Linked DNA regions of Homo sapiens: all the other regions are reported to be linked to region 4. Evidence: microRNA targets listed by miRTarBase, many of them from high-throughput screens and not tested one by one. Region 4 holds a microRNA gene; each other region holds the end of a gene's coding sequence.

Region 1 (4,000 bases), not on the chromosome of region 4:
TAATGCAGAGGGCCTGAGGTGAGCAGGAGCGGCAGAAACCTTTGAGTTTCTGAGGAGCTGAAAATCAAAAGTCCCCTTAACCACAAGATGTTGGTGCTCTGAAGGGAAAGACTGGAGAATTTGAGAGAGATATCTGGGAGTCAGAAAGGTACAGAGAGAATATGGGGATTAGGTCGAGGGAGAATCTAATCTCTTTCCTACTCTTACCCTCCTTCCTAGACATTCCTGAACCCCTGGTATGAGGCCAGCCTGCTGCCCATCTATGCAGTCACTGTTTCCATGGGGCTCTGGGCCTTCATCACAGCTGGAGGGTCCCTCCGAAGTATTCAGCGCAGCCTCTTGTGTAAGGACTGACTACCTGGACTGATCGCCTGACAGATCCCACCTGCCTGTCCACTGCCCATGACTGAGCCCAGCCCCAGCCCGGGTCCATTGCCCACATTCTCTGTCTCCTTCTCGTCGGTCTACCCCACTACCTCCAGGGTTTTGCTTTGTCCTTTTGTGACCGTTAGTCTCTAAGCTTTACCAGGAGCAGCCTGGGTTCAGCCAGTCAGTGACTGGTGGGTTTGAATCTGCACTTATCCCCACCACCTGGGGACCCCCTTGTTGTGTCCAGGACTCCCCCTGTGTCAGTGCTCTGCTCTCACCCTGCCCAAGACTCACCTCCCTTCCCCTCTGCAGGCCGACGGCAGGAGGACAGTCGGGTGATGGTGTATTCTGCCCTGCGCATCCCACCCGAGGACTGAGGGAACCTAGGGGGGACCCCTGGGCCTGGGGTGCCCTCCTGATGTCCTCGCCCTGTATTTCTCCATCTCCAGTTCTGGACAGTGCAGGTTGCCAAGAAAAGGGACCTAGTTTAGCCATTGCCCTGGAGATGAAATTAATGGAGGCTCAAGGATAGATGAGCTCTGAGTTTCTCAGTACTCCCTCAAGACTGGACATCTTGGTCTTTTTCTCAGGCCTGAGGGGGAACCATTTTTGGTGTGATAAATACCCTAAACTGCCTTTTTTTCTTTTTTGAGGTGGGGGGAGGGAGGAGGTATATTGGAACTCTTCTAACCTCCTTGGGCTATATTTTCTCTCCTCGAGTTGCTCCTCATGGCTGGGCTCATTTCGGTCCCTTTCTCCTTGGTCCCAGACCTTGGGGGAAAGGAAGGAAGTGCATGTTTGGGAACTGGCATTACTGGAACTAATGGTTTTAACCTCCTTAACCACCAGCATCCCTCCTCTCCCCAAGGTGAAGTGGAGGGTGCTGTGGTGAGCTGGCCACTCCAGAGCTGCAGTGCCACTGGAGGAGTCAGACTACCATGACATCGTAGGGAAGGAGGGGAGATTTTTTTGTAGTTTTTAATTGGGGTGTGGGAGGGGCGGGGAGGTTTTCTATAAACTGTATCATTTTCTGCTGAGGGTGGAGTGTCCCATCCTTTTAATCAAGGTGATTGTGATTTTGACTAATAAAAAAGAATTTGTAATTGTGGGGGAACTTGGCTTTTAAGGGAGGGGATAGCATGTTAATTGAGATTTCTGTCCTCAGATCTCTCATCCAGCCACTTTCCTAACCTGGCAACCACTGATTTCCAAGCATAGCCTTGGTGCAAGGGCAGAAATCTGGGCTAGTGGTTTAACATGTCTGAAACTTTGGGTTAAGTGTCTTCCCAGAAGCTTATCTTTCCTTCCAGGGGTGGGATAAAAGGAGTTAATCACCCATGCTTCTTTTCCCCATCCTTTGCCCATCTTTACCACCTGAGGGATTCAGGAACTTGCCCACCCTCAAGAGCCTCAAAGGATAGGCCAGAATTAAAGTCAGAAACTTTAATTTCCAAATATATTGATCAAAAATATACAACTTCAACAGCAACTCTTTATCCTAAGGAGAGATCCCGCAGTATATCTAGGGAAAGGGCCATAAAAGTGAGGGGGTAGAGGACTTTGGGGTATATCCCAAACTTCCCCTGCAACTAAACAGAGTTTGTTCTCTGCATTAACAACACAGCGATTTCCTCATTTCCTCCTACATGTTTGGAGAGGCTGAAGGCTCTGCAGTTCTTCCTGGAATGACAGCCTGGGTCCATTCCTCTCTAGGAGATGTCCAGGGGAAGGAGGACATCTGCTTACTACTCCTACAGTGTTTCTGGCCAGATCCTACACCCCATTTTAGAGGCTTCCTGATAGGCATGAAGGGAAGTCATCCACATCCATGGTATCTGAGAAGGAATTTATGCCTCAGTCGTGGCTTGTGCTGAGGTGAAGACCACACTCTTTCGGTTTTCCAGCCTCTTCTTCCTGGAAAGGGGAATGGCTCATGAGAATGACTGCTATCTAAGTGAAGCAGATTAGAGGTGAAATAGGAGAATGCTTTTTAACAGAAAAGAGGGCTGGGCAAGGTGTTTCACACCTATAATCCCAGCACTTTGGGAGGCTGAGGCGGGCGGATCACTTGAGGTCAGGAGTTGGAGACCAGCCTGGGCAATGTAGTGAAAACCCGTCTCTGCTAAAAATACAAAAATTATCTGGGCATGGTGGCACATGCCTGTAGTCCCACCTACTCAGGAGGCTGAGGTGGGAGGACCACTTGAGCCCGGGAGGTGGAGGTTGCAGTGAGCTGTGATAAAGCCATGCACTCCAGCCTCGACAACAGTGAGAACCTGTCTCAAAAAGCGGGTGGCTCATGCCTATAATCCCAGTACTTTGGGAGGCTGAGGCAGGCGAATTGCCTGAGGTCAGGAGTTTGAGACCAGCCTGGCCAATATGGTGAAACCTTGTCTCTACTAAAAGTACAAAAATTAGCTGGGTGTGATGGTGCGTGCCTGTAGTCCCAGCTACTCGGGAGGCTGAGGCAGGAGAATTGCTTGAACCCAGAAGGCAGAGGTTGCAGTGAGCTGAGATTGCACACCACTGCACTCCAGACTGAGTAACAGAGCAAGACTCCGTCTCCCACCTACCAAAAAAAAAAAAAAAAAGAAGAAGGGACTGGAGGAATGGAAAGTAGGGCCTCACCGAATCTTTCTAGCAATGAAATAAACAGCCAGGAGAAGGCAGAGACAGCCAACCAAGATTCCTACACCTAGACTCAGCATTTCACCTGGGGGAGATAAAGGTAAAAGGTGTCAGCCTAGGACTAACATAGATTTTGAGCCTTTCCCCCACTCGGTGAGGACACCTCCCCTCCCCGCATTATCTTATAAGGCTGGCTTACCTGTGGTATACGAGGATCCTGCTGTAAGAGAAGAAAATGGGTCAGTGGGACTTCAGATCCCCATCCCAGCTGGGAGCAGCACTCTCTGCTGCTGTGCCTGGGAGAATCCCCCGGGGGCACCCTGGGGTGGGGGTTGGTTCCCAGTCCAAGCAAGTCCCAGAAACCCCCTCCCCTTTTAGCCTTTTCTTCCCATTGGCTCCCTAGTTCCTGCCATTGTGTCCCCCTCAGTTTCCCATCTCTTCTGAGCCGTGCAGAATCACCTTGGATGAAAGAAGCAAAGACCATGCGCTGATTGAGAGGCTGAAGGGCTCGGTAGTTCTGTACCAGAAGCTTAGAGGGCTCCTCTTCTGTGGAGAACAATGTCCCCTGAAGCTTTTCCAGCTGAGGAGCAGAAGCGTGGGAGAGGTGTTACTTTGGGGAGTGGGAAGGGGTCTGAAGTTACAACTGTGTCTCACCTCACCTCGTTTCTCCACCACTTACCTGTTCCATTGAAATCTGGGACCTTCTATAAAAAACTGTCCAGAGCACACTCTGGTAGCAAGGGGGAGTTGTGAGCGAGCCATTGTAGCGGAAGTACTGCCCCAGCTGTTTGGGGAGCAGCTCTCTTAGGTTGAAGGGAGGCACTGAGGTCTTCTGATCTGGGGAGAACAGACTGGGACTCATCTTCCTTTCAGTGTGCCCTAGCTTACCTAGATAGGGCTCCCAGAAGCAAAATTCCTTGGCTCTATGTAATTGCTTCATCCCAAGGCTTTTAAGGATAGTTTTTGAAAGTCTAATCTTACTTCCTGCTATAGATTTTTAAGG
Region 2 (4,000 bases), not on the chromosome of region 4:
TCTGCCAGTGCCTCCGACCCCCACCTTCCATTTTTACACCCAGCAAATTCCTGGGGCCTGTGGCTCCATCTGATAGCTCTCACCCATTTCTGCCACTGTGGCCCTACCTGACTTTCCCCATGTCAGCTTTACTCCAGTCCCATCCTCGATGCCCCAGCCCCATCTCTACCACCACGGGCACATCTCTCCCCACGGCCATGTCCCTGTCCCCCATGGACCCATCTCTGACCCCACATGGCACAGCCACATCTGTGCCATGGACCCATCTCTGCCCCTGCCCCATGGACCTGCCTCTGCTCCACTGCGGTCTCTCGCCAGGCCCTACCCCGATCACCTCTGCCTCACCCTGGGTGCCCACGGTTCCACTCCATATCCCTGCCCCAGAGGCCTGGAGGCGGCCCCACGACCATCCACTCTTTGATATCCTGGTGGTGAGGGCTGAAAGGGCGGAACTGCCCACCAGGCCAGATGGGAAGGGAGGATGGACAGACGGTAAGACAGGGACGCACAGATCAGGGAGAAGAGCCCGGGGACACAGGACGGACAGCAGGTGGCCATGGCCCCACCCCTTCATGCCCTCCTCCTCCCCAATCAGGGACCCTCATGTGCAACCCCCTTACCCGGCACTGCCTGGGATGTGGGGTCCCCATCACCGGCCGCTCAGCCCTGCCGCCCACTGCGCCCTGGCTCTCCGGCAAGCCGCTTCCTCCCTCCCTCTTCCTGGGGCGGCTCCTCAGCTCCTCCCGCCGCCCTTGCTGGCCTCCAGGGGCCGCTCCACCCCGCGCACGCCCGCTGGGGGCCTGGAGTGGCAGAGACCCCCCTCTCTGCTCCTGGCAATGGGCGGGGGCCACTCTGGGCCCCAGCGGCTCCCTCCACGAGGAGTGAGGCTCCCTGGAGTTGGTCTGGCCCCATGTGACCCCCTCCTCCCAGCAGGGCGGGAGCAGCCCCCTTCCCCCCCAGGATCGGGCCTCTTGCCTCATTAATAAAGCGGATAAAATCTAAACACTGGAAAATGTGAGCGTCGTCTGGGGCGGGCTGGGGCAGCTGCAGGGGGTGCCACTGCCCCCCTCCCTGGGGCTTTGGAGCTAGAGAGGCTAACTCCAATTCTGTGGGGCCAGCAATGCCCCCCCTGCCCTGCCAAAGCCTTCGTGGATGTCGGGGTGGGTGCTGGTGGGCAGGGCCTCGGGTAGACCAGCTTGGGTCAGGCCCAGCCTGGCCAGGGGATCCGCCTATTTATACAGGGGCTTAAGCCCCGGCTAGGGCCACAGCGAGTCATATCCTGGGAGGAGGCTGAAAGGGGGCAGGGGAACCAGGAGGCCTGGCGACCTGGGGACTCTCCCCAGTGACTGGCTCCTTTAAGATGGGCTGAGTGACACCTGTGACACACGTCCTAAGACACAAAGACTCGCCTCCTGCCCTGAGAAGTAGGGTCACACTGGCACAGCCTCACACCCTAAGACATACAATCCTGTCACTTACCACTCAGTTTCATCCTGTCCCCATCTCAGCACAGCCAGGTTGCTGCCGCCACATCCCTGAACTCAGGGTCTTACCCCCAGCGCCGGGACGCACCCAGAGTTACTGCCTCAATTCCAGCCCCTCCCAACACCCCAAAATGCAGCCCTCTGAGATGATCACCCGAACCACCCTCCTTAGTGCTGGGAAATAGGGTCTCACTTGGCACCCCGAGAGATACACACACGCACACACACTCCTTATTGCCAAAACTGCCCCTGACCACACTCTGTTTGACTTTCAATGACCCCTCAACAATCCCAGACAGGCCCCACCAGCACACTCCGTACACCCAAGGCACAAGAAGTGACACCCCCCGCCGCTGGACACCAGAGACCTAGCTGGCCACCCCCACCCTCACCCAGAAACAGCAACGCCCTGAGACACACACACCTGCACCCCTAGAGACCCCTAGACCTAGCCAGCACCCCCACCCAGGAAACAGCAACACCCCGAGACATACCCTGACACCCCTGAACACCCCAAGGCCTAGCCAAGCACCCCTCCTTGCCCCAGAAACAGCACCCTAAGACACACACCCCCACACCCCGGGACACCCCAAGACACAGTCACTCCGTTGCACTCCCCACCACCAGACACTGCCAGTTACACCTGCAATTGCCCTGGAACACAGAGCCGGTTATCACATCCCTTACCCACGACACAGCCCTCCCTCATTGCGTCACGAGCCATCAACACTCTTGATAGACTCACAGTGCTACCCAACACCCGAGACACACATAGCCACACCCCTTCACCACCGCAAGCGGCTCCCAGCACAGACACCTGAGGAGCCCACAGGTGCCCGGGGATGCCCTGAGTCACCAGGACTGCGGCTCCCCGACTCCACCCGGGTCTGTCCACCAACACCCAGCCCCCAGGGTCTTCCCCTTTTCCCCCTTCCCCTCTTCCTGGTGGCCCAGTGCCCGCCCGCCTTTTGGAACGAGGATTGCAAGCTGGCCTCGGACTTCCCCACAGCCTCTCGGCTCACCCCCAAGCATTCCTGTGGGGCCTTCTGGCCCAGCGCCCCTTGCTTCAATCCCTTCCCTTCCCTCCAGGTCTGGCCAGGGTCCCACCCCGCCTTTCCCTGATCACCCTCAATCCTCGAAGATGAGTGGGTTGTCAAAACAAGTATGCTGGGTTTATGTCTAGGACAAAGCAGGGTGCCCCATGGACGCCTGCGTGTCCAGCATTGGGCCGGGTGGGGTGGGGGCTGCCTCACGCCTGCCCCCAACCTCCCGGTGTAGGGGTGGGGCTCTGGCAGGCCTGAGGTTCCATCTTTCTATTTCCAAGCCAGGTTTCAATGCCCTGGTGCTCCCCACGGTCCGGGGGTTGTCACCAGCTGCAGACAGCAGCCTTGTGAAGCTCCAGGGGGTAGGAGGCCTTGTGGGAGAGGGGGCAGGATTTGAACCCTCAGTAGTCCAGGAAGCTCTGGCCCTGCCTGGAAGCCTGGTGGCCTGCAGCCAGAAGGAACAGTGGGAGGGGGCAGGTGGCTTGGTGCCAGCTCCTAATTCAATTTGGAGCCTGCGGAAGATGGATTTCAGCTGCTGAATTCTTTCTCAGCCCCAATCTTCCCCCTCTCCCACCCCGAAGCCACACAGGTCCAACAGCAGATAGATTCTTTATGTTCAAGACAGCAAATTCAGATACAAAAACCCACCGCCATCGTCCCTCCCTCCCTCCTGCTCTGGGCCAGGGATGGGCCTGGAAGGAGAGATGGGAGGTGGGGAGGAGGTTGCGGGGTTCACAGCAGACTCGTGTCAAATGCGGAGGTAACAGGCTCCACAGGGAGGGGGCTCCTCTCAGGAGGGGTGAGGGCATTATTGCATTTGCTGGGGGGAAGGACAACCCTCTCCCCTGTATTCCCTGCGTCAGGAAACTAGGAAGGTCATGACCCCCAAACAGAACCCAAGGCCCCAGGGAGACAGAGGGACCAGTTTGGCAGCTGATGGTGGAAAGTGGTGGAGGCGGGGGTGGCCGCCCAATTTGGCTGATCCCTCCCCTCCCTGTGCCTGACCCAGCTGAGGTAGGTGGGGAACAGGGCACAGGGGGGCCGGGGACCCCGGCCAGACTGGGAACCAGGGAGGGGATGGTACCGATTGGAGCGGGGCAGGGGGCCTGGCCCCACCTCCCCTCACCATCGTCCTTGGGCTGCTGAGCTAGGCTCAGGCTGGAGGCTCGGGTCCTGACGTCAGTGTCCCTGCTGGGGGCCCCCACCAGGTTGCGCCCGGGTCATCATCGCAGGGTCCGGGGGCAGTCCTAGTAGCGGCCGACCTTGGCGTCCCCAATGGCGCCCCAGACGTCAAAGACGAACTCGTCAGGGAAGGCAAAGTCACCCAGCCGTTCGTCCAGGGCCTCGGCCAGCTCATCCGGGTTCCTTTTGTCCTTTCCCAGCTCCACCATGGTGGCCGCTATTGGGGGAGGGGTCAGAACGGAGGCACAAATGACACCAGGGACCAAGGGGCTCAGGGTGGATTCGGCCCCC
Region 3 (4,000 bases), not on the chromosome of region 4:
AGGTGGCAAATAAACCTGGGCAATTTTGTTTATACAAAAAATAGAAAAAAAGTTCCAAGTTTTTCTTTCTTCCCTCATTCTTTTATTTTTGAAAAGTGCCTTCACGTTGCATTTTTATTGGAGGAAAACCTCGCTCGTTCAGTAAGCATAATCTGATTAACACAGAGAACGGCAAGCACATATAAAATGATTTTTGTAGGTCATCTGCAAGTTCATGGAAGAGCTGGGCCTAGAATGTGGGTTGTTTCCTGGCCTGTCTAGTCTTTGTAGCTGTGAGACATAGATTACAGCCTATGCTAATTCAAACCTTTTAAATAAAATGTTCCTTATCTCAAACTAGCTGGTCCTAATGGACCAGTAAATAATATTCACTTTCAGTCTCTTCTGGCTTCCTCTGTAGAGGCTCTAGGTTATGACAGAGTTAGCTGTGAGTATGAAGGAAATAGAAGTCAATGTCCAATCGTGGCTAAATTGGAGGAAAGAAAACAATGGAATCTGAGGGGAATCAAACAATAGTTAGGGAATGTTCTATTTTCTTAAATTCCCTACTAGCTTTCTCACCCTCCTGTAGTGATTGCCAGGTCCCTCTAGCCTCAGTAGTGGGAAAGGGAGTCATTTACTGAACACCTACCCTGTGCCATTTTACATACAGCTCACTTAAATTTCACCAAGTAGGCAGCCTTCAACATCACAGGTGATTCAATCAAAGTAATTTGCCAGGGGCCGCCAGCTTCAGCCGAGCTAAAGCTGGTGCCTAGGCCTATTAACCCGAGCCCATGCCTTCATGTATCACTGCATAGTACAGAATGGCAGCACATACTGTGTGTAGACATTTTTCTACACACGTGGTCAGCCAAGAGTAAAAGCCTCTGCATCAGAAAGCAAGAATCTCCTATAGCAAGTAGAAGTGGTGATGAGGGAAGAGGCCAGAGTTGTTTAAGGCTCCCAAAGTCCTTATGGTCTAAAGGCTAAGATCCTAAAAGTGCTAGTTTAGTACTGGAAATCTGAAAACTCAATGGTTTTTCCATACTGAGACCCTTCCTTTAGCAGGATATAGCCTGGGCCCATCTCTTCCTCTGCCTATCCTTGTAGGACATGCTCACTCCAAGCTCTGGAATAGGTCTGTCTTTGGAAACCACTCAAACTAAGATGTCACTGACTGCCAGAGCATGGACCCCATTTCCAATGAGAAAACTTGTCCTGCTCTCCCCACCCAGCCCTGCCCTTCCACCATGTTATGCAAGTCTTCGGTTTCCAGACAATTCATGGCACTTTCCTTCTCCCTAACAGTTCCAGGCCTAGGTGAGGTGTGGTTGACAAGATGATCCCATTCGTCCTTTACACAAGCCCTCCCACACCCACAGGCACTTCCTCCTTCTGCCAAAACAAACTTTATTGCACCAAAAAGGAAAACAAAAAAAACAAAAAAACTTCATTTATATACAGTCAGATATAAAGACATCTCTTTGACTCCTGTGCATATATTTCCTCAACTCAAGATTAGGGCATAAAAGTCAGGCTGCTATGCCAGACATGCTCTGCCCTATGGCAGGGCCAAGGAGAGGATTGTCACTTGAAAGTGGGAACACTTAAATGGATGACAGACAACACTGGACCCACAGACCAAGAGCATTCTTCTAAGCCCTGGAGTAGCTCGAGGAATGGAAGAGGGAAATTGGAAGCAGGGTCCCTTTTCGATCTTCATGTGAAGAGACCCAGCCTCTTCAAGGGTATCCAAGATAAACTTCCGTTCCCCAAGCCCACCAATCCCTGTCCAGTTCCTTTGCTTCCTGCCCTCCCAAATAGGACATTCTCCTTTGTGCCCAGCCCCCCTTTGCACAGATCCTCCAAGGGGAGTCCCATGATCCACAAGGCAGAGACCTTCATAGCAGAGGGCAGGGCAGGTACACACTATCCTCTCCCTTATGCATGGCTGGACACTGACTGAGGCCCTGCATCACAAGAATCGCCAATACCCACTGGGAGCCATAACAATAAATCTGGAAGTACGGGGAGAACATATCAAAAAGGGGAAGGATGGATTCCCTTGATGCCCAGGATTACAGGGCACCTAAAGCACATTTTTTTTTTTCTGAGCCAACCAGCTAAAGGATCACTGCAGCTAAATACAGATAGAGAAGCAACAAAGCCAGGCAAATACCCATCAGAGACAGTGACAAGAGCAGCTGGGGGCACGGGGGAGGCGGAAGGAAGAGAAAGAAGGGGAGGAGCCTCCAGAGTCCCAGCCCCAACCCCCTCTGCCATTGGCTACCCTTGCTCCCCAAAAATCCCTGGGGTTGAAGTGAGGAGGACTACAGGCTGGGGTGAAAATACACAAGGACAGCCCAACAAAATACAACAAGGACTAGCATCAGTCTCCCCCTTACTCCACCCCCAAGAAAAATACCCTTATTGTGACTAGTATTTATGAAAATCTGTAAGAGACTATTCTATGTAGTGGCTCTAATCCCATATACACAGCAGCTGCCTGTGTTGGGAACTTTTCAAATCAGTGATTGCGGGAACAAACAGTATTTTCAGCTTCTTACGGTGCCATGCAGGCTTTACCAAGACCTTGGTTAAGTCCCAGTCACATTTACTTTCTGTCTTACATCTAGAAAAGGGTGAGGAAAGAGGGGAGGGGAGAAAGGTGCTCAGGTGCTAGGTAAAGCTTACTGATCAGCAGCCTAGACTCCACCACTGTTCCTTCTCTTTGGTCTGTCTAGAACAGTGACTATAAATTAGGAAAAACAAAATTATGCTGGCCTGTGGGAAATAATGGGGGAAGGAAGGCAGGGAGGAAAAGGGCATTGGGAAGCCCTGCTTCAAGACTGAAGACAGACAAATAGACAACCACCCAGACTGCTTAAGTGTCACAGACAGCCCCCACCCCAAGCTCCCTTCCAGGTATCCCCATAAATCATTTGGGCACACTCCCTCTTGGAATTGCAATTTCCATCTTCCACTTATCCCTAAGGAGCTGGCCCTGTGGAGAGGTGTGTTGGTTGTTTTGTTTTTGCCAAAGGCCCTCGCTCTAGGTGCTCCTGTAAAGGTACCTTGGCCCCTGATACGGGATGAATGGATGAACGAAGCCCCAGATGCTCCAGTGCCAAGGAGGTCAGACCGGGAACAGGCCCCCACTCCCACACCCTGGGATCGGAGCTTGCTTGGTTCTTGCCATCTTGCAGGATGACTTCGAGTCTGGAGGGAGATACACAGTGCCTCTCCATCCCTGGGGTGGGGGGAAGGGATTCTGCTGGGACTCTTGAGTGGGGGAAGGGGAGATGGGAGCAGGGTCTAAACCCTCAGGCTCCCATGAAGGTCTGTCTCTGTCCCAGATGAACTGCTATCAGAGTCCATTTCTGCATTCTCATTATGGAGCCTCTCCAGCACTTTCTGACGTATCAGTCCCAGGCGCATCAAGAGGGACTGGTAGTCAAAGTGGCCCCGCTTCTCTCCAAAAGGGTCCTGTGGGGAAAGGAGACAAGGGGATGGAAGATTCAAGTCTGGGTGGCTGATCCTAGAGAAAGCAACTTCGGGCCCATGTGAAATGAAAGCTCAACTTCTGAGCCATGGGAGCAGGAAGGCCTAACAGCACAGGCAGTCCCAAACAGCAGGCAAAATAACCTTTGCTTAAAAATATGACACCTGGGCCAGGCGCGGTGGCTCACACCTGTAATCCCAGCACTTTGGGCGGCCGAGGCGGGCGGATCACCTGAGGTTGGGAGTTTGAGACCAGCCTGACCAACATGGTGAAACCCTGTCTCTACTAAAAATGCAAAATTAGCCGGGTGTCGTGGCGCATGCCTGTAATCCCAGCTACTCGGGAGGCTGAGGCAGGAGAATCACTTGAACCCGGGAGGCGGAGGTTGCAGTCAGCTGAGATCGAGATCGCACCATTACACTCCAGCCTGGGCAACAAGAGTAAAACTTGGTCTCAAAAAAAAAAAAAAAAAAGACACTCTTACCGCCCCAAATAGGTGTAGCTTGGGCTAGAGTG
Region 4 (4,130 bases):
CACGTCCTTCAGGTAGCGGGGACCCAGCCCCATCGCGCCGCCCCTGTGCAGCCACGACAGCCCCAGCAGCGTGTAGGCCATGTTCACGAGTGAGTTGAACGGCATGGCCAGGAAGGCAGGGAGGCCGGCCACGGGCGCCTCGGCGTAGTGCTCATAGCCCACTTGCACGGAAACACTGTCGAAAATGCCCGTGAACACAGCCACGGCACAGAGGCCACCGGCCACGGCCACGTGCACGAAGGCCTGCCCCCACTCTGGATTCATCTGGAACCGGCGGCGTGACCTGGGGCAGGGAGCTTCAGAGAGCAGCCTTCAATACGCAGCCTCTGCAGAACACTCTGGGCCTCCCGGCTGAGCCAGCAGAAAGAAGCCCCGTGATTTCGTGATTTCCGAGGCAGATGCTGCGACCTTGCCCCGAAGGAAGGCAGGAGTCCTGCTGATTGGCTGGCGCCAGCGGAGGAACGTTCTGCCTTTTTCCTTTGTGGTTACAAAAGGAGTGTGGTTAGAAAACAAACCGTCCCCAGCACCGCCTCCATGTTCCTGACCCCCGGCCTCAGGAGCTACCAACCATCTTCACTGGAGAAGCAAATCAGAGTGAAACCGCTGCACACTGACTCTCTCAAGCCTCTAGAATCCTCTATCACCCCTTTCTCCTGGCACCTAGGAAAATCCTGCCCATCGTCCTAGTTTCCTTAAAGCCACTGCATCTACAGACAAGACCTGTCTAGCTCTGTCATTACAACTCAGAATGCGCCTTCCCATGTCAGTGTGTTATAAAAGTGGACGTCTCCAGCCCCAAAGCCCTTTTCACCAAATACCCAGCTGAACTAGAGACCATTAGATGGAGTCCGAGCTCTGGCCTCTGACACAAGGTGGGGGATGGAGGAGGAGGAGGATTCACCGTCTGCCACTCAAGCACCAGGCCGGGAGGCAAGGGGGTGACCCGCAGGCTTCCCAGGCCAGCTTCCCTGGCTCACTCGCCTGCCCTCTCCTGAAGTGCCAAGCCCCAAATCACCTTCTTTCCTCAGGCCACCATAAAGCCTTCTGTCTCCTTCAGTCACAGAACCAGAGAGACAATTTAATTACCACTGACTGTCAACTGCTTTGGGGCCACTGGTGCTGTAAGTGAGCCCTAGTAGCTGAGAAATACATTAATATGGAAGGGAGAAGAGCTTTAATGCTCTGAAAATGACTCCAATCATTAAAGCTCTTCTCCCTTCCATATTAATAAATTTCGCACTCAAGAGGGTGGGCGGGTAGGCGGGCTCAGGGAGAGAGAAGGGTGGGCTCCAGTTCCTGGTCAGCTGATGCCAGACTGTTCAAACCTTGGCTCTCCCACTTACTAACCATGTGATCTTGCACCTTAACTGTCTTGGGCCTCGGTTTGTGCACCTTTTTTTTTTTTTTTGAGACGGAGTCTCACTCTGTTGCCCAGGCTAGAGTGCAGTGGCACAATCTTGGCTCACTGCAACCTCCGCCTCCCAGGTTCAGGTGATTCTCCTGCCTCAGCCTCCCTAGTAGCGGTGATTAGAGGCGTGTACCACCATGCCCGGCTAACTTTTCTATTTTTAGTAGAGTTGGGGTTTCACCACGTTGGCCAGGCTGGTCTTGAACTCCTGACCTCAAGTGATCCACCCGCCTCAGCCTCCCAAAGTGCTGGGATTCACAGGTATGAGCCACTGTGCCCAGCCCGGTTAGCTCACCTTTGACCTAATCGCTTAGAAGTTCCAGGCCTGGGAGGGATCTTAGAAACCATCTGTGCCAGCCCCGGCATTTCACAGATAAAGAAACTGAAACTCTAGCAGTTTGACTTGGCTGAAAGTTACAGTGAGGAGGAGCAGAAACCCAGGCATGCCGCCTCCTGGCCCCAGGTGCTCTCTGCTCACCTCCCTGGAAGAAGCGCCAGGAGGGCTTCCACGTGGCTTCTTCCTTGCTTTCTGCTGCCATGGCCTGGGTATTTTTATTTAGACACGGGGGTCTTGCTCTGTTGCCCAGGCTGGGGTGCAGTGGCACAATCACAGCTCACTGCAGCCTCCACCTCCTGGGCCCAAGCTATCCTCCTGCCTCAGCCTCCCAAGTAGTTGGGACCAGGGATATACCACCACCTTGCCCTGCTAATTTTTTTTTTTTTTTTTGAGACGGAGTCTTGCTCTGTTGCCCAGGCTGGAGTGCAGTGGTGCGATCTTGGCTCACTGCAAGCTCCATCTCCCGGGTTCACGCCATTCTCCTACCTCAGCCTCCCTACCACAGCGCCCGGCCTGCCCTGCTAATTTTTGTTAAAAAAATTTTGGGCCAGGCATGGTGGCTCATGCCTGTAATCCCAGCACTTTGGGAGGCCAAGGCGGGTGGATCACGAGGTCAGGAGATCGAGAGCATCCTGGCTAACACGGTGAAACCCCGTCTCTACTAAAACAATACAAAAAATAGCCAGGCGTGGTGGTGGGCGCCTGTTGTCCCAGCTACTCGGGAGGCTGAGGCAGGAGAATGGCGTGAACCCTGGAGGCGGAGCTTGCAGTGAGCTGAGATCGCGCCACTGCACTCCAACCTGGGCGACAGAGCGCGACTCCATCTAAAAAAAAAAAAAAAAAAAAATTGTAGAGACAGGGTCTCACCATGTTGCCCAGCCTGGTCTCGAACTCTTGGCCTCAAGTGATCCTCCTGCCTTGGCCTCCCAAAGTCCTGAGATTACAGGAGTGAGCCACTGCACCCAGCTAAACCCCTCTTAAGTTGAAAGTCCAGTTCCTATATTTTCGACTTATGATGGGTTTATCTGGACATTACCCTGTTATACATCAAAAAGCATATGTAGCTGGGCATGGTGGCTCACATCTGTAATCCCAGCAATTTGGAAGGCCAAGGTGAGAGGACTGCTTGAGTCCAGGAGTTTGAGACCAGCCTGGGCAACAAAGTGAGACCCTGTCTCTACACAAAATACATAAAATTAAATTTAAAAAATAAAATAAAAATTAGCCAGGCATGGTGGTGCACCTATAGTCCCAGCTCCTCAGGAGGCTGAGGCAGGAAGATCACTTGAGCCCAGGAGATGGAGGCTGCAGTGAGCTATGGGCCACAGAGCAAGACCCTATCTCTAAAAAAAAAAAAGCTAGGCGCAGTGGCTCACACCTATAATCCTAGCACTTTGGGAGGCCGAGGCAGGTGGATCATCTGAGGTCAGGAGTTTGAGACCAGCCTAGCCAATGTGGTGAAACCCCGTCTCTACCAAAAATACAAAAAAATTAGGCCGGGCACGGTGGCTCACGCCTATAATCCCAACACTTTGGGAGGCAGAGGCGGGTGGATCACTTGAGGTCAGGAGTTCCAGACCAGTCTGGCCAACATGGTGAAACCCTGTCTCTACAAAAATACAAAAAAATTAACCAGGCGTGGTGGCGCACGCCTGTAATCCCAGCTACTTGGGAGGCTGAGACGGGAGAATTGCTTGAACCCAGGAGGCAGAGGTTGCAGTGAGCCAAGATCGTGCCATTGCACTCCAGCCTGGGCGGCAGAGTGAGACTTCATCTCAGAAAAACAAAACAAAACAAAACAAAACAAAACAAAACAAAACAAAACAAAAAATTAGCCAGGTGTGGTGGCACATGCCTATAATCCCAGCTACTCGGGAGGCTGAGGCAGGAGAATCGCTTGAGCCCGGGAGGCGGAGGTTGCAGTGAGCCGAGATCACGCCACTGCACTCCAGCCTGGGCAACAAGAGCGAAACTCCCTCTCCCCCCCAAAAAAAAAAAAAAAAAAAAAAAAAGTGGCCAGGCGTGGTGGCTCACGTCTGTAATCCCAGCACTCTGGGTGGCTGAGGTGGGTGGATCAGTTGAGGTCAAGAGTTCAAGACCACCCTGGCCAATATGGTGAAACCCCATCTCTACTAAAATACAAAAATTAGCCAGGCGTGATGGCTCATGCCTGTAGTTCCAGCTACTTGGGAGGCTGAGGCAGGAGAATCGCTCAAACCTGGGAGGCGGAGGTTGCAGTGAGCCAAGATCGTGCCACTGCACTCCAGCCTGGGCGACAGAATGAGACTCCGTCTCAAAAAAAAAAAAAGTATCTGTATATGCAGACCACTTAGCACTATTTTATTATTACTTCATTTTATTTTGTTTTTTTGAGACAGACTCTTG
Region 5 (4,000 bases), not on the chromosome of region 4:
AGGGATGTCTCTGTGGAGCTGCCTTTTGTTCTTATGCACCCCAAGCCCCACGACCACATCCCCCTCCCCAGACCCCAGTCAGGTGAGCACACTACCCACCCCAAGCCCTCAGAGGGAGGGCCTGAAGCAGGGCCAGTGGAGGAAAACTGGCCCTTCCAGCACCCACCCCCACACCCCCTCTTCCCGTCCCCCCAGCCGCTCCGGAGACAGATGTCCCTGTGGACACCAACCTCATTGAATTTGATACCAAGTAAGAAACTCATTCCCCTACTTGACCCTCTTGGGACAAAGATTCCTATAACATTCAAATCTGCCCTCATACCTCTTCCTTGCTTTTGGTGGGGAGAAGCGGATTGTAGCATCAAATCAAGATGCCTTAGCCTTGTGAGGCTGCCTCTTGCTGCCTTTTCTTTGTCCCTTCCTGTAAATACCTCTGGTCCCACTGCTGTTCGAACGCCTCTGTCCCAGAGGCCTAGCTTCGGGGAGGGCAGGGAGTGGGAGGCTGGGACAAGAGTCAGAAGCCCTCACCTCACAACCCTCTTTCCCACCACCAAGCTATGCCACAGATGATGACATTGTGTTTGAGGACTTTGCCCGGCTTCGGCTGAAGGGGATGAAGGATGACGACTATGATGATCAACTCTGCTAGGAAGCGGGGTGGGAAGAAGGGAGGGGATGGGGTTGGGAGAGGTGAGGGCAGGATTAAGATCCCCACTGTCAATGGGGGATTGTCCCAGCCCCTCTTCCCTTCCCCTCACCTGGAAGCTTCTTCAACCAATCCCTTCACACTCTCTCCCCCATCCCCCCAAGATACACACTGGACCCTCTCTTGCTGAATGTGGGCATTAATTTTTTGACTGCAGCTCTGCTTCTCCAGCCCCGCCGTGGGTGGCAAGCTGTGTTCATACCTAAATTTTCTGGAAGGGGACAGTGAAAAGAGGAGTGACAGGAGGGAAAGGGGGAGACAAAACTCCTACTCTCAACCTCACACCAACACCTCCCATTATCACTCTCTCTGCCCCCATTCCTTCAAGAGGAGACCCTTTGGGGACAAGGCCGTTTCTTTGTTTCTGAGCATAAAGAAGAAAATAAATCTTTTACTAAGCATGAGTGTGTGTTTTCTCTGTAGTGTTTAGAGAGTGTATGGTGTGCTTATCCATGATTCTGTTAGCTTGTGGGGGAGGACCCAGTCTCTCTTCTGCACCCAAAAGCCACCTGACACGGAGGCTATCAGCAAATGTTTATTGGATGACTGTGCTGTGGCTGTGTTCCAGGGTAAACATCAAAACTTGACTTAGTCCAAACTCAAGGGTGAGGCTTGATAAGGCCACAAAGTGAACTTAGTCATTTCTAGAGGTCACAGTAACTAAACTAACTCGCCTGCACACAGATGCTCACGGGAGCTAGCCAGGGCAGGCCCTTCCCTGTTGCGGCCGACGCACATGACCACCTGTGACCTGTTGTGACCGAGTCGCGTTCATTTCCACTGCTCCTTATGGCTGCTCGAGCCATCTGCTCCTGTGGCTCAGCGGTGCCACAACCGCAGGCCTCACCAGACAAGCCACGTGACGTCTCTGGAGTCTGGTACCTACATTCTAACACAGAAGCTGAGGCTTGGGCAGCAAGAACGTCATGCTGCCGTGGGCCCCTGTCCTAGGGACCACATCTTAGTGCTGTTCATGGGATATTCATCAGGGACTCCCTGAGGCTTGACCGAAGCCCCAGGCTGGGCTGGAGGGAGGTAGCATCACTCCACGAACATTTCTCACCTCCATCATCTGCTTCCACTCCTGAAGCCCAATCTTTCTCCTAAAGCTCCTTCATGCATTCCACAAACAATCTGGATTTGAGTCCCTACAAAGTACCAGGCATAGTATAGCAGTACAACAACAACAACAACAACAAAAACACATTAATTCATTCCCTTTTTTTTTTTTTTCTTTTGAGACAGAGTCTTGCTCTGTCGTCCAGGCTGGAGTGCAATGGTGCCATCTCGGCTCACTGTAACCTCCGCCTCCCAGGTACAAGTGATTCTCCTGCCTCAGCCTCCGGAGTAGCTGGGATTACAGGCGCCCGCCACAACTCCCGGCTAATTTTTGTATTTTTAGTGGAGATGGGGTTTCGCCATGTTGGTCAGGCTGTTCTCAAACTCCTCACCTCAAGTGGTCCACCCGCCTCGGCCTCCCAAAGTGCTGGGATTACAGGTGTGAGCCACCGCGCCAGGCCTCCCTAGTTATTTAACTACAATATCTTTGCTTCAGAGGAGAAGTACTGGAGCCAGGAGAACGCGTGACAGGGAGTTCTGAGCTAGGTTGGGTTTGGGGAAGATTTCCCTGAGAAAGTGACCTTTAAGCAGAGAAGTGAAAGATGAGGGGAGTTCGGGGACCGTCCAGGGATGAGCATTCTGGGCAATGGCAGTGTCGTGTGAAGGCAGGAGGAAACAACACATCTGGGACCTAAAGAGGCCAGAGAGACTGGGACAGAGACAGCCAGAGGCAAAGTAGTTCCTTCTGGCTGCTGAGCCAGATGGGGACAGCTCGCACAGGCCTTTAGTCTATGTTATGACTCGTGACTTCTAGTTAAATCGCCATTTACCCACAAGCTTTAAGTACTGCCAAAAGGCCCGTGACCTTGCTTACCCCGCCACGGCGGCAGCCTCCCCTGCAGAACCTGGACTTTCTCATGCGGAAGAACGGAAGAACCATCCCGCCTAATACCATCTCCAGCATCCCTCCGACTCCCGTGCACCTGCTCCTTGACCTCTAAGCCCAGGTATCTCAATTTTTTTTTTTTTTTTTTTGAGATGGAGTCTTGCTTTCTCACCCAGGCTGGAATGCAATGGTGCTATCTTGGCTCACTGCAACCTCTGCCTCCCAGGTTCAAGCAATTCTTCTGCCTCAGCTTCCCGAGTAACTGGGACTACAGGCACACGCCACCACGCCTGGCTAATTTTTGTATTTTTAGTAAAGACAAGGTTTCGCCATACTGGCCAGGCTGGTCTCGAACTCCTGACCTCCTGATCCGCCCACCTTGGCCCCCCAAAGTGCTGGGATTACAGGCGTGAGCCACCGCGCCTGGCCGATCTCAAATTTTTTTCAGGAGAATCAGAACCCTCGGGGTGCCATGGTAAAAATCCAGAGTTGGGCTCCACCTTTCCCGATTCTGAGTCACAAGGTCCCAAGAAGAATCCAAAAATCCGGATTTTTAATTAGTACACACTTTGAGAAACTGCCCTTTTTATTTATTTAATTAACTTATTTATTATTATCTTTTTTTGAGATGGAGTCTCACTTTGTCACCCAGGCTGGAGTGGAATGGCGCAATCTCAGCTCACTGCAACCTCCGCCTCCCGGGTTCAAGCCGTTCTCCTGCCTCAGCCTCCCGAGTAGCTGGGATTACAGGCACGTGCCACCATGCCTGGCTAATTTTTGTATTTTTATAGAGCCAAGGTCTCGCCATTGCACTCCAGCCTGGGCGACAAGAGCAAAACTCTCTCTCAATAAATAAATAAATAGTCTAATTCAATGGCATTTAGTATACTCACAATGTTGTACAACAATCCCCTCTGTCTACTTCCAAACATTTGGCTTCCTGTATTTTCAATAACAGATAAATTTTTTTAAATTGTCTTTCTTAAGGCCGGGCGCAGTGGCTCACACCTGTGATTTGTAATCCCAGCACTTTGGGAAGCCGAGGCGGGTGGATCGCCTGAGGTCAGGAGTTCGAGAACAGCCTGGCCAACATAGTGACACCCCGTCTCTACTAAAAATACAAAAAATTAGCTGAGCATGGTGGCGGGCGCCAGTAATCCCAGCTACTCGGGAGGCTGAGGCAGGAGAATCACTTGAACCCTGGAGGTGGAGGTTGCAGTGAGCTGAGATTGTGCCACTGCACTCCAGCCTGGGCAACAAGAACAAAACTCCATCTCAGAAAAAAAAAAAAATTCTTTTTGCTTTTTAGGTTCATACACTAGGAAAATTTTTTATATTTATTTTCATGT

The links. The annotated mature microRNA hsa-miR-3202 reads UGGAAGGGAGAAGAGCUUUAAU and lies in region 4 at 1,201-1,222, opposite strand. An mRNA with a match to its seed (bases 2 to 7 or 8) in the 3' UTR can be bound and repressed. Matches are read on the target gene's strand: a 7mer-m8 pairs with bases 2 to 8, a 7mer-A1 pairs with bases 2 to 7 and ends in A, and an 8mer does both.
Region 1: miRTarBase lists APH1A as a target of hsa-miR-3202. The part of its 3' UTR that is shown has no 7-base or 8-base seed match.
Region 2: the mRNA of GIPC1 is a reported target of hsa-miR-3202. Seed matches in the 3' UTR shown: 7mer-A1 at 3,221-3,227.
Region 3: the mRNA of UBE2Z is a reported target of hsa-miR-3202. Seed matches in the 3' UTR shown: 7mer-m8 at 3,275-3,281 and 7mer-m8 at 3,244-3,250.
Region 5: miRTarBase lists ARRB2 as a target of hsa-miR-3202. Seed matches in the 3' UTR shown: 7mer-m8 at 746-752.

The regions. Positions count from the first base shown.
Region 1 is chr1:150,262,876-150,266,875 of GRCh38, reverse strand. APH1A (aph-1A gamma-secretase subunit) reads left to right here. Exons shown (of 7, transcript NM_001077628.3): 6 at 220-343; 7 at 682-1,472. The coding sequence ends at 746. It overlaps CA14 (carbonic anhydrase 14), which reads right to left. Exons shown (of 11, transcript NM_012113.3): 7 at 3,677-3,834; 8 at 3,457-3,577; 9 at 3,197-3,217; 10 at 2,998-3,082; 11 at 1,798-2,283. The coding sequence ends at 2,217. Among named protein-coding and RNA genes, the nearest start is that of SNORD13C, 3.2 kb to the right of the region's middle.
Region 2 is chr19:14,474,642-14,478,641 of GRCh38, forward strand. It overlaps GIPC1 (GIPC PDZ domain containing family member 1), which reads right to left. Exons shown (of 9, transcript NM_005716.4): 9 at 3,121-3,926. The coding sequence ends at 3,775. PTGER1 (prostaglandin E receptor 1) reads right to left here and starts at 713. Exons shown (of 3, transcript NM_000955.3): 1 at 621-713. RefSeq lists enhancers at 698-1,366, 3,706-4,000 and a silencer at 1,783-2,265.
Region 3 is chr17:48,926,432-48,930,431 of GRCh38, reverse strand. It overlaps UBE2Z (ubiquitin conjugating enzyme E2 Z), which reads right to left. Exons shown (of 7, transcript NM_023079.5): 7 at 1,376-3,468. The coding sequence ends at 3,298. It overlaps SNF8 (SNF8 subunit of ESCRT-II), which reads left to right. Exons shown (of 8, transcript NM_007241.4): 8 at 1-1,116. Among named protein-coding and RNA genes, the nearest start is that of SNF8, 16 kb to the left of the region's middle.
Region 4 is chrX:153,978,197-153,982,326 of GRCh38, reverse strand. MIR3202-1 (microRNA 3202-1) reads right to left here and starts at 1,230; the gene lies at 1,150-1,230. TMEM187 (transmembrane protein 187) reads right to left here. Exons shown (of 2, transcript NM_003492.3): 2 at 1-477. The coding sequence starts at 264. It overlaps MIR3202-2 (microRNA 3202-2), which reads left to right and starts at 1,151; the gene lies at 1,151-1,229. RefSeq lists an enhancer at 1,744-1,853.
Region 5 is chr17:4,720,391-4,724,390 of GRCh38, forward strand. It overlaps ARRB2 (arrestin beta 2), which reads left to right. Exons shown (of 15, transcript NM_004313.4): 13 at 3-82; 14 at 196-250; 15 at 556-1,107. The coding sequence ends at 649. Among named protein-coding and RNA genes, the nearest start is that of MED11, 9.0 kb to the right of the region's middle.